Linked DNA regions of Homo sapiens: regions 1 and 2 are each linked to region 3. Evidence: fine-mapped expression QTL. A gene starts in region 3. Each other region holds a variant in brackets. All regions are shown on one strand. Distances are between the middles of the regions. Region 1 has its middle 20 kb from the start of SLC22A16. Region 2 has its middle 33 kb from the start of SLC22A16. Region 3 holds the start of SLC22A16 (solute carrier family 22 member 16).

Region 1 (4,239 bases), 20 kb before region 3:
GCTTCCAGGTAGCTTCAGTGCATCACATTCCGCAACCGTCTGCTTCACACCCCAGCCCCTTAAGAAATACACTTTGGAAGCAGAGCTCGAAAAATTTCTCTGTTGCCTTCCTCAGACCTGCTCCTTATTTTTTTGATAACTTTGGTCAGTGTCACTGTGGGAAGCAGCTAGCTATCTCGAAGGTGTTAGTTGTTATTCTTCAGCTCACTCACAGACCTGTAAACACACACACACACACACACACACAGATGCACACACACCTTTCACCTCTCTACTGATGCTGGCAGAACCCATCTTCTGCTACATTCTTTGCATTTCTAACATCAACATGTTATAACACTCAAGGTTCCTAGGCCAAAATTTTATCCATTTCATGTTCTTTGAAAGAGACTGATAGTAGGTATTCCAGGTCTTTTGCACATTCTACAGATCCCCTGTTTGTTTCTTTTTTTTATGCTAAGAGGGAAAACATTTCATTCACTGGAACCTTTCTTAATTCACTGCATTTGTTTAGGAACCAATCCTTTCAAAACTGCTCCAGGTAGAGCCCTCAGCAGGTGTGCACGTGAAATACATCAGAGAAAGACTGTGCTGTCCAGGATAAGAGGGAAACATGCATCATTTTGAAAGAGAGTGGGGAGGGAGGGAAAGGCGGAAAAGAGGGAGGAGGAAAGAGAGAAGCTGGAAAGGTCAGACCACCATCCTGTCAGATACTCAGGCTTGTAACCTCCTCTCCCCTCCTCACGTTTATTTGCTGACCCCAGGGAGTAGGTTCCCATAGCCTGTCATTCTTCTCCATCATTGAGTGAAGCCCTTTATTCTGTATCTACTATCATCTCTTTAACCTGGATGGTGAATACTAGGCTCCCAGAGAATCTTTCTGCCATCAGCTTCTCCACCCTCCTCCACTCTCTGCTACACCCCATTATCAGACCAATCTTCTGACAGCACCACTCTGGACAAAAACTTCAGTAAGCTCCCCACTGTCCATTAACTAAAGCTCAGTAGTCTTGGCCTAGAATTCAAGGCTCCCCTCCTCCTTGTGGCCCCAACTTTATTGACTTATCACAAGCCAGGTACTCTGTTAAAAGCATCTAAATGTTAATTTGTCCATCTAAAATCCCTTTCCAGGAATGTGCTTTCTCCCCCACTTCCTCTCCCAGTCTCTGAAGTGTTGCGCTGCTATTGATGAGAGATGAGCATATGATGCAGGCCAGCCAGTCAGAGCATTTCACGGCCTGGCTACAGGCCAGCCAATCAGAACCCTTCACAGCCTGGCCATGGGCCAGCCAATGAGAGCTTTTCACAGCCTGGCCACAGGCCAGCCAATCCGAGCATTCTACTCTCTGCCGCCCCACCGCCACTCTCAGCTTTCTTTCTTTTTTTTTTTTTTTTTTTTTTGAGATGGAGTCTTGCTCTATCGCCCAGGCTGGAGTGCAGTGGTACTATCTTGGCTCACTGAAACCTCTGCTTCCTGGGTTCAAGCTGGTCTCCTGTCCCAGCCTCCAGAGTAGCTGAGATTACAGGCAAGTGCCACCACGCCTGGTTAATTTTTGTATTTTTAGTGGAGACAGGGTTTCGCCATGTTGGTCAGGCTGGCCTCGAACTCCTAACCTCAGGTGATCTTCTTGCCTCAGCGTCTCAAAGTGCTGGGATAACAGGC[T/G]TGAGCCACCGCGCCCGGCCCCATCCTTAGCTTTCTGAAATGTGATGTGTAGGTGTGGTGGAGAGGGGGCTTCTCTCTTCTGGGTTTGAAATCTACACAGAGAAGCAGAGAGGAGAAGTGATGGAGAATGAGAGAGAAAGGGAGACCTGATGACACTGTCTCTCTGGATCCCATGGCACGTGGGGCTTGTTCCACCTCTGGACTTTTCCCAGAGTGAGTCAAAAACGTCCCTTGTTTTCTTCGGCCTGTTTGAGTTGGGTTTGCTGTTACTTGCAGCTGAAGCCATGAAGAAAGTGTCGGAGGCGAGCGACGACTATCTGGACAGGTGGCGGGGAGATAAAAGAATTTACCAAGACAGGCCGGGTGCGGTGGCTTACGCCTGTAATCCCAGCAGTTTGGGAGGCTGAGGCGGGCGGATCACCCGAGGTCAGGAGTTGGCGACCAGCCTGACCAACGTGGAGAAACCCTGCTTCTTTAAAAATTCAAAATTAGCCAGGCATGGTGGCGCATGCCTGTAATCACAGCTACTCGGGAGGCTGAGGCAGTAGAATCGCTTCAAGCCGGGAGGCGGAGGTTGCTCTGAGCTGAGGTTGCGCCATTGCACTCCAGCCTGGACAACAAGAGTGAAACTCCGTCTCAAAAAAAAAAAAAAAAAAATTTACCAAGGCAGTTGTAGGTAGAAAAAGGCAGATTCATTAGAGAAAGTATGAAAATACCTTTCCAGGAAGCAACGGGCAGGCTCAGCAGAAGAGGCGCTGACTGCAAAGAAACAAAGGCTTGCTGGAGGTTTTATAGGTTGGTTCTGAGGCTGCAGAGTGTCTCATTCAGTACTGATTAACGCCAAGGTTGCAGGGAGCTAACTTGCATTTTTTCGTATCAGCTGAAGGTCTGGTGATAGCTCGGTGTAGGAAGATTGTGAGTTATTTGTGTAGGAGGGCTGTGTGTCCTGGAGCATATAGAAAGGCAGACTTGTAGCTTATCTGCTTCTTCTTTTTGCTTTCCCTTGCTCCCACCAGCCTGACTCCCTTTCCCTAATTAGGACGCCAGAGAGAGCACTTAAGAGGGCCTATGTCATTTGATCCTCATGACCACCATGAGGCAAGACTGTTAGTTCACCATTTTGATGGGGAAGTGACACCTGAGAGATAAGCCAGTGCCCAAGGCCTCACAGTTTTTAAGTGGTAGAGACAGAATTTACAGCCAGGCCTCTGACTCCGAGGCTGCTCTCTTAACGATGAGTTCCAAGGCCTTCCAGGAAAATGTACCCGGTACTTCCTATGTGCCGGGCACTAGGCTAAGCGCCACACACTTGTCCTCTCCTCATCTGCTGCTGTTTCCAGCGTGTTCCACACGCCCCTCAAACAGGTCCTGGGTTTTCCCACATCTGCATCTTTACCTGGAACATGCTCTTTGCCCCACCTCTGCCTGGCAATGTTTACTTATCTTTCCAATCTTGGATCAAATGTTGAGTCTTTCTGGAAGTCTACCATACTCAGAAGCAAGTACTTCCTCCCTGGAGTCTTAAGGCTTTTGATTTGACCCCCAGGCCAGTCGGCTGCCTTTGAGCGCTGATGGCACAGGAACTTGTAGGCATTTCTTAGGGAGAGTGGGGAACTGACAGTTTGAAGTTACCAGATTTAGGTTCTAGTTATTTTGATGGCATCTCGGCAAAACACCACACTTTTCGATAACAAGAAATGCCACTGTCATGGAATGGGCAGTGGCTTTGGGGTAAGACAGGGCTGGGTTTGAATCTGTCTCTGCAACTCTAGAGCTTGGGTGACATTAAAAAGACTACCCATTCTCTCTGAGTCTCATTTTTCTTATCTGAATATGAGGATGACAGCAGTGTTGATCTTAGAGATCTGAGAGAAGTAAATGGGATAATGAATGCTAAGGGCTTAGCACAGTGTCTGGTGCCATGTATGTATGTTTTTACATAAAGGATTACATCTTAAACTCATTTTTGCCCCTGCACGCAGAGAAGATGCAGGTAACACACGTACTTATTAAATGAAGGACCAAATCTTATGAATATCCCTCCTTTAAACCTTCTCCTAGTCTTTGATAGCAACTGGCCACTTGTAGTTGCTTAAAGAAGCTAAAGAGAATTGGAAGCAGCAGGATGGAAGAGAGGTGGAGGGAAATGGGAGTCAGAAAATAAACGTCCTTTTAAGAAAGGCCATCATAAGAGCAGTGCAGGTGTTCCAGCGAGGCAAGAACCAGGGTTAGCTTTGTTCCTTAGATGACCCACGCTTCATTCCTTACTTTGTCTTTTCTTAGAGGACACAGGGTGAGATGACCAATGACATAGGCTGCATTGTTCCTTTTGGAATTGTGCAGTGTTCCCAGTTCAATCTTCCTCATAAGCGGGAGTGAGGCAGTGGTGCAGTGGTGGTGCTGCCATGGCGGTAACAGCAGCTGCCCAGCAGCTTCCTGATCTCTGGGTTGAAACTCTGGTGGTGTGACCTTGAAACCAGTACTCATGTTATGACCCCTGACTTCTCCTCCAGCTCTTCCAACAATGTTGAAAGCATATAATTATCTTACTTATATCCCTCTCTGCTTGAAATACT
Region 2 (4,239 bases), 32 kb before region 3:
ATTTGTCTGCCTCAGACTCTCGAGTAGCTGGGATTACAAGCATGCACCACCATGCCCAGCTAATTTTTGCATTTTTAGTAGAGACAGGGTTTCACCATATTAGCCAGGCTGGTCTTGAACTCCTGACCTCATGATCCGCCCATCTCAGCCTCCCAAAGTGCTGGCATGAGCCACTGCGCCTGGCCCCATACTTCTGACTAGCTATAGATTGGTGATTCCCATGAATCCCTCCTCATTTTGAGTATTTTGCTAGAATGTCCCCCAGAACTCAAGAAATCATTTTACTTATGTTTACCAGTTTTTTATAAAGGACACAAGTGAACAGCCAGAGGAAGAGGTACAGAGGGTAGGACCCAGCAGGGTCCCAAGAGCAGAGGCTTCTGTCCTGTGGAGTTGGAGCCAGCCACCCTCCCAGCGTGGGTTGGATGTGTTCACCAGCCCAGGAGCTCTCCAAACCCTGTTGTTAAGGGGTTTTTATGGAGTTTCTTACATAGGCATGATTGATTAAATCACTGGCCAATGGTGATCCGATTCAATTTCCAGCCCCTTTTCCCTTTCTAGAGGTTGGAGAGTGAAGGTTCCAATCATCTAATCAAGACTTGGTCTTTCAGGAGAAGGGCCCCTATCCTCAAGCTATCCAGAGGTCCTCCAGGAGTCACTTTATTAGCATAAACTCAGGTACAGTTGAAAGGGGCTTGTTATGAACAGTAAAAGATGCTCCAATTTTCCCTATCACAGAGGAAAACTCCAAGTGTTTTAGGAGCTCTGTGTCATGAACCAGGGACAAAGACTCAGTATATATTTTCTATTATATTTTACCACAGTGTTAAGGAAAAGGGGTCCTGATCTACACCCAAAGGGAGGGTTCTTGAATCTCATGAAAGAAAGAATTCAAGGTGAATCCATACAGTGAAGTAAAAGTAAGTTTATTAAGAAAGTAAAGGAATAAAAGAATGGCTACTCCATAGGCAGAACAACCCTTGGGGCTGCTGGTTGCCCATTTTTATGGTTATTTCTTGATTATATGATAAACAAGGAATGAATTATTCATGAGTTTTCCGGGGAAAGGAGTGGCAATTCCTGGAACTGAGGGTTCTTCCCCATTTTGGACCATATAGGGCAACTTCCTCATGTTGCTATGGCATTTATAAACTGTTATGGCACTAGTGGGAGTGTCTTTTAGCTTGCTAATACATTATAATTAGTGTATAATGAGCAGTGAGGACAACTAGAGGTCACTTTCATCACCATCTTGGTTTTGGTGGGATGTAGTTGGCTTTACCACATTATTTTTTCAGCAAGGTCTTTATGACCTGTACCTTGTGCAGACCTTCTATCTCATCCTGTGACTAAGAATGACTAACCTCCTGGGAATGCAGCCCAGTAGGTCTCAGCCTTATTTTAACCAGCCTTTATTTGAGATGGAGTTGCTCTGGTTTGAATGCCTCTGACAACAGTACCTTTTGAATTTTGACCTATGTATACAAACACACACACACACACACACAAACACAGAAGTATTAATACTGAGTAATACTGAGAGTTGGGGGGATGCTCAGAAAGACTGAGTTACCCAAGTTCACATAATTTGCCATGGTCAGAGATGGACCTCAGGTTTCCTTACTTCTGTTTGAAGGTTTTTTCCAATATGCTGTGATTACTTTCTCATCTCTTTGAAGATGTTTACTGCTTTCATGACTTCAGAATGTCTGAGTATTCTAGTTTTCAATATCTAAAGGGGAATCCTTTAGATTTAGGGGCATGGGGGCCACTTGTGGGAGGTCAATGATATTTCCTCACACATTAATGCAATTTTTCTCCAATATTCAATGCAAGATATGGTATATAGAGAGGCAACCATGTATATCATGCAAATTGAGAAAGACTTGGAAACTGTCCCATCCAAAAGTACTCATCTATTAATCTGCTCAAAGAAATATGAAAGAAAACTTAGAAGAAATCCCACTACTGTGTAGTATCTCTTAAGTAAATTGCAAATATTTCTAGGAGAAGTGCTCTTGAAATGGGAGAGTTCCCTGACCACCCTTAAAGGACATGCAACAGGGGTATGGCTCATGTGTTTGGTCACCACACACTCAAACCCCTAACAGGAGTGGGAGCACACAGCAGGGCAGGCACAGGAGCTGGGGCGAGTGCTTTGAGGCTCCAGCCCCATAGCAGCATCTGGAGTGGGTGCCTGTGACTCCCAAAACCCAAGTGGGCATGGCATGTGTTACAGTGCACTCTTTTAGCTTTGATGTCCACAGATGGTGTAAGTGTTAACCAGCTCAGTGGATCCTCTGCCTTTTTGCAAGGGCAGAGGGCCAGTGTGACAGCTTACTGTATCCCAAGCTCCTGTCTAACATCCCAGAAGAATCAGGTCACACATGGACTTGAAGGGTAGTGAATGTGGGGG[T/C]TTTATCGGGTGGTAGAGGTGGATCTCAGTGGGATGGATGGGGAGCTAGAAGGGAGATGGTGTGGGAAGATGATCTTCCCTTGGAGTTTAGATGCTCTTTCTCTTCTCTGCCACATCATTCTGCTGTTCTTCTGCTCTTCTGTTCATCTTCTCATCTCCTTGTCTGCTCATCTGCTTCTGGAACCTGAGGTCTGTGGTTTATATGGGTACAGGATAGGGGGGTCAAAAGACAACTTTTGGGGCATGAAAACAGGAATGCCTGTTCCCATTTAGGGCCATGAGTATCCAGGCTTGAGGATGGGGCCTTTGCTGGGGAACCACCCTCTTCTACCCAGTATTTCTCTGTCTCCTGTCCATATCACTCTTACACTGTCAACAACTATTATTAACTCCTGAAAAAATGAATTTATCAGATTCCTACTTGCAGGTCAGATTCTAACAGCAGGCTCCTACAGAAATGGGACAAGTGGTTGATGAAGAGTCAAATTCTGTAAAATATTTTAAGAGATTTATTTTGAGCCAACTTTGAGTGACCATAGCCTATGAAGGAGCCCTCAGGAGGTCCTGAGAACATGTGCCTGAGATGATTAGGCTGCAGCTTGGTTTTATATATTTTAAGGAGACATGAGACTTCAATCAAATTCATTTAAGAAATACATTGGAGGCCAGGTGCTGTGGTTCATGCCTGTAATCCCAGAACTTTGGGAGGCTGAGGTGGGTGGATTACCTGAGGTCAGGAGTTCGAGGCCAGCCTGGCCAAATGGTGAAACCCTCTCTACTAAAAATACAAAAATTAGCTGGGTGTGGTGGTGTGTGCCTGTAATCCTGGCTCCTCAGGCTGAAGCACAACAATCGCTTGAACCCAGGAGGTGGAGGTTGCAGTGAGCCGAGATTGCGCCACTGCACACTCCAGCCTGGGCAACAACGTGAGACTCTGTCTCAAAAAAAAAAAAAAAAAAAAAAAAGAAATACATTGGTTTGGTCCTGAAAGGTAGGACAACTTGAAGCAGGGGTTTCCAGCTTATAAGTAGATTTTAAAATTTTCTGGTTGGCAGTTGGTTGAGTTTATCTAAAGACCTGGGATCAATAGAAAATAATGTTTGGATTAAGATAACAGGTTGTGGAGGCCAAATTTCTTATTGGCAGAGGAAGCCTGCAGGTAGTCGGCTTCAGAGAGAATAGGTTGTAAAATGTTTCTTATGTGACTTAAAGTCTGTGTTGATGTTAATGCTGGAGAGGTATAATGAGCCATGTCCAACCACTACTTCCCATCATGGCCTGAAACAATCTCTCAGGGTAAATTTTAAAAGAGCCCTGGCTGAGTAGGAAGTCCATTCAAGTGGCTGGGGGGTCTTGGAATTTTTTTTTTTTTTTGGTTTACAAAGGGATAATAAATTTTGATTTAAAAAACAAAGCACCTGAGGGGTGGGCTCAGTGGCTGATGCCTATAATTTCAGCATTTTGGGAGGCCAAGGTGGGAGGATCACTTGAGGTCGGCAGTTTGAGACCAGTCTGTGCAACATAGGGAGACCTTGTCTCTACACACACACACACACACACACACACACACACACACACACATGATCTGAGGATCTTTGTTTTTTTCTTCAAAGACAGGGTCTTACTATGTTACCCAGGTTGGATTTGAACTTCTGGACTCAAGGGATCTTCCCATTTCAGCCTTCCAAGTAGATAAGACTATAGGCATGTGCCACCACACGCATTCTCTCGGTTTTGTCATCTGTAAAACGAGTGAGCTGGACCAGTGTGTCCTCAGATTTCCTTCCTTCAGAGCTCTGTTCTGGCTAAATGATTTTTCAAAT
Region 3 (4,239 bases):
TGACATTTCTATCTGGTGTAATAAGAATAGTGTTCATATCAAAGTTCAATTTCTCCATATCTTTTCCAGGTAACTCTCCCTTTGGTGCTTTGAAGCAATATGGCGTCTTGACTGGCTGCCATGGCCCCCACCTTTCCTCCTAGGCTCAGCCCTTGACATAACTACTCCTCACTACCCTCTCATCTTCCCCCCACCTTGTATCCCTCTAGCATTCCTCACCTGAAGAACTTAGGCTTTCTTAAGTCTCTTTAGTTAGCAGGAAACTATCTAATTTAAAAACCCTCTCCAAGTTGTTTATTACTTAAGGGATTAGTCCTTCCAAGAGTATTTATGTTTCAGAAGAGAATGTCTAGATAGGATTGTGCATAACAAAAATAAGTCAATTTTTAATGGTGTTATTGTAGGCTCTGTGACAAGTAGGGGAGGGAAGCACTTTGGGAAATGGACTCTCCTCTCTTTCAAATATTATTCAAGTACAAGTTTGCGCCTGTTACTCTTCTGCTTTAAGACTGTCTACAGGGAGTTCTCCTTGTCCTTTGGTCAAAGTAAAATGTTCAACACAGCCTTGCAAGATCCTGCCGCTTCTCGGAGCCATCAGACCCACTCTTGATGCTCTGCTCTGGTAGAGCTCTGCCCTGGCCCTCAAACTGTTGGACTTCTCTGAGAAAGCGATAGGTGTGCTCAGATTTTAAGGATGAGGTGGAGAAGTTCAGAGAGAGGGCATTTGCTATGGAACTGAGGCTACCAAAGTGACGAAGAGAATGCATCCCTGTTCTCTAGGAACTCAAGGTTTAGTGGCCTTATAGAGTGGAATAGCACGCCAACAGTGGGGCCAGTGACTGCCAGGCTGACTAGAGAAGGCAACTCTCACTGTGGATATAGTCGGAAACTGGCTTTTCTGCTTCAGCGCTGTGGACCAGCAATTGACCTTTCTTCCCTAAAGTTCATTCACTTGATACCTTCCAGAAGGAAGGTCACCCCCTGCCTGGGTTGGCTATGGGCCAAACCCCTGCCCACTCCAAAGTGTGGCTTGGAATGCCATGGTCTGCTTATTAAAAATCAGATTTCGGGAGGCCAAGGCGGTCGGATCACGACGTCAGGAAATCGAAATCATCCTGGCTAACACGGTGAAACCCCGTCTCTACTAAAAATACAAAATATTAGCCGGACGTGGTGGCGGGCACCTCCCCGCTACTTGGGAGGCTGAGGCAGGAGAATGGTTTGAACCCGGGAGGTGGAGCTTGCAGTGAGCCGAGATTGCACCACTGCACTCCAGCCTGGGCGACAGAGCGAGACTCCGTCTCAAAAAAAAAAAAAAAAAAAAAAAAAAAAAAAAAAAAAAAAATCAGATTCCTGTTCCCCAGGCATCCTGAATCATCAGGGATGGAGTCTCAAAATAAATGTACATTTATTTATTTTTTATTTTTGTATAGACGAGGTGTCGCTATACGTTGCCCAGGCTGGTCTCAAACTCCTTGGCTCCAGCAATCCTCCTGCCTCGGCCTCCCAAAGCACTGGGATTATAGGCCTGAGCCACCACGCCGGCCTAATTGTACTTTTATTTTTTTGAGACGGAGTTTCACTCTTGTTCCTCAGGCTGGAGTGCAATGGCACGATCTTGGCTCACCGCAACCTCCGTCTCCAGGGTTCAAGCGATTCTTCTGCCTCAGCCTCCCGAGTAGCTGGGATTACAGGCATGTGCCACCACGCCCGGCTAATTTTGTATTTTTAGTGGAGACGGGGTTTCTCCATGTTGGTCAGGCTAGTCTTGAACTCCCGACCTCAGGTGATCCGCCCGCCTCGGCCTCCCAAAGTGCTGGGATTACAGGCGTGAGCAAGTGCGCCCGGCCTTAAATGTACCTTTTAAACCAAGTTCTGCAGTAGATTCTTAGGCATTAAAGTTTGAGAGCCATGTTTCTGAGGGGCGTCATGCTGAAGGCTATATATTCTTGCGGCCCCCGGACCGAGCCTAGCCCTTGCATTCCCACCCTGGGCTCTCTCTCAGCGACAACTTTTCCCAGGCGTCGGGGCTTCCCTCGAGCGTGGCGACCCCGCAGACATGGTGCCAAGAGCCAGGGTGGGCGGCGGGGCGGGTGGGAGAGCGGCGGCGCTGGGGGCGAGGGCACCATGCGACCGCGGGCGCCGGGACCACAGCGCGCCGGGAAGGAGGCCGAGGCGGCAGGAAAAAAGCCGAAGATACTTGGGGGGACCGAGGGGCCAAGCGACGGAGGGAGGAACAGAATACAGCCTCGCGCTGGTCCCGAGCACTGGGACGCGCGGGGAGAGCAGGAGGCCGGGCGGGGAGGTTCGGGGCGGGGCGCGCTACCCGCAGTCCCCGGAGCTCGGCTAACTCGGCGCCCAGTGCACGGCCGCACCATGGGGTCCCGCCACTTCGAGGGGATTTATGACCACGTGGGGCACTTCGGCAGGTATGGGGGAGGGGCCCCGCGGCGCCACGCGGGAGGCGGCGCCGAGGGGTCTGTTTCTTTCCGTTGCGGCGGGGTTCTCGCGCGGCGCTCGCGATCCGAAAACATCTCCACTTCCTCCTCACCCCGCGCAGTCGGGACACGGGCGTCCAGACGCCGGCCCCTAGCTGGGCTTCTCCTCTAGGCCTCTGGCAGCGGGACCTGGCATGGTGAGCAGAGGCGCTGGGCTCGCTCGGAGTGCGCCTGTTGCCGGGCAGGAGGGACCTGGTGCGTGCTCTCCGCGGCAGCAGATGCTGGAGGCATCTGGCTGGAGATCTGGCTCGAGGGGCCAGATCTCACTCGTAGGGGGTGCCTGTGCCTGGCCGCCCGTTTCTCTAATCCGCCGCCACTTCCCTAGACGGCTGCTGCCCAGTTCTGCCCTGCGCCTCCGTAGGGCCTCCCTCTGTGCCTGGCAGGTGTTCCCCAGGGACAACCGTTAGTCAGAGTTGGTTGCCGTTTATTAAAACCTAATACGTGCCAGGTACACTGTACCTGGCGCTTACACATAGTTCTTCATTTGATGTTCACCGGGACCCTGCAAAGGAGGTGTTCAAATCCTTATTTTAGTGATTGGGAAACAAGCTGGCGGGGTCAAGGACTCATAGCCAACGCATGGTGGAACCACGTTTAACCTCCGTACACCCTCTTTTCATTTGTCAAATTGATTTAAAAAATTTAAATTATTCATTCGTTCGTTCACTCATGGACAGAGCTCCTCTATCTGACTCAGAGTGTTTTGAGAGGGGAGGTAGCCGGGTGAGGGGCCATGCAGCGTTATGGCCGGAGATTTGGAGCTGCGTCTCGATCCTGGCCTGCTACTTACCTCTGATATGATTCTGGAGATACTTTGTGTGTCAGTTTCCTATCCAGAAAACGGGAATCAGGCTTAGCAAAGAGATGATGTGGTGCTGTTCTTCAAGGTGGAAGGTTGCATGCGTTTTGGTTTTGATTCCCAGTGTCTGCAAAAAGGAGCTGTTAGGACAGAGGAAACGGGCAGGAAGCCCCAGCTGTTCCCTTCTTCCTCTGCTTGCATCATTGAACGCTGCCTTGTGCCTGGCTCGGTCATAAGCCGTTGGTACATGTTACTTCCTTTAATCTTCACTACAGCCTTATAAGGTTGGTAGTATCACCCTCTTTTCACAGATGAGAAAACCAAGGTTTCTGCCTAAGCACAAATCTAATACTAGCAGGGCAGAATTGGATGCCATTGGATGCCCATCACCTCCACAGCCCACACTCTCAACCATGATGCACTCCTGAGCACGGTTAGGTGACGGCTCCTCAGCTGGGCCAAGCTCTTTATGTATGATCTCATTTCATCCTTCTGGAAGCAGAATAGCACAGAGGTTAAAAGATCAGTTTTAAGGCTGGATGTCTAAGTTCCCACTCTGGCGCTACCACACATTAACTATACGGTCTTGAGCATTTTATTTACCACTTTCTTATCTGTAAAATGGGGCTAATAATAGTACAAATGTTTTCAAATAGGAGTAGTGAAAATGTGTATATGAGGACTCTGCATGCAGTTTCTCATCCTTACAGTAACTCAATGAGGTAGGTGGTACTTACATCTTAGTTCCCCTGTGTTTTTTAGGGATTAGCTGAGGTAATTATATTAGTTGGTGTTTGACTAAAGTGCCCAATCAAACAGATTCCTCAAATGGAAGTTTATGCCTCTCCAGTAACTGCCCACAGCAGGATCTGTGCCACGAGACCATTCAAGGACCCTGGCAGGTGGGACAGCTCTGTCATCCACTGCATGGGGCTCCCTGTC

Evidence for each region. PIP is the estimated chance that this variant, and not a neighbour inherited with it, causes the effect.
Region 1: its variant is the best candidate, but not a certain one, in a credible set for the expression of SLC22A16 in whole blood (INTERVAL, PIP 0.87).
Region 2: its variant is the best candidate, but not a certain one, in a credible set for the expression of SLC22A16 in whole blood (INTERVAL, PIP 0.57).

What each region holds. Positions count from the first base shown.
Region 1 is chr6:110,494,583-110,498,821 of GRCh38, reverse strand. No RefSeq gene overlaps it. Among named protein-coding and RNA genes, the nearest start is that of SLC22A16, 20 kb to the right of the region's middle. The variant T/G (reference allele first, on the strand shown) is at 1,664.
Region 2 is chr6:110,507,028-110,511,266 of GRCh38, reverse strand. No RefSeq gene overlaps it. Among named protein-coding and RNA genes, the nearest start is that of SLC22A16, 33 kb to the right of the region's middle. RefSeq lists an enhancer at 1-11. The variant T/C (reference allele first, on the strand shown) is at 2,417.
Region 3 is chr6:110,474,712-110,478,950 of GRCh38, reverse strand. It overlaps SLC22A16 (solute carrier family 22 member 16), which reads left to right and starts at 2,338. Exons shown (of 8, transcript NM_033125.4): 1 at 2,338-2,429. The coding sequence starts at 2,377. LOC105377938 (a long non-coding RNA gene) reads right to left here and starts at 3,434. Exons shown (of 2, transcript XR_942860.3): 1 at 3,289-3,434.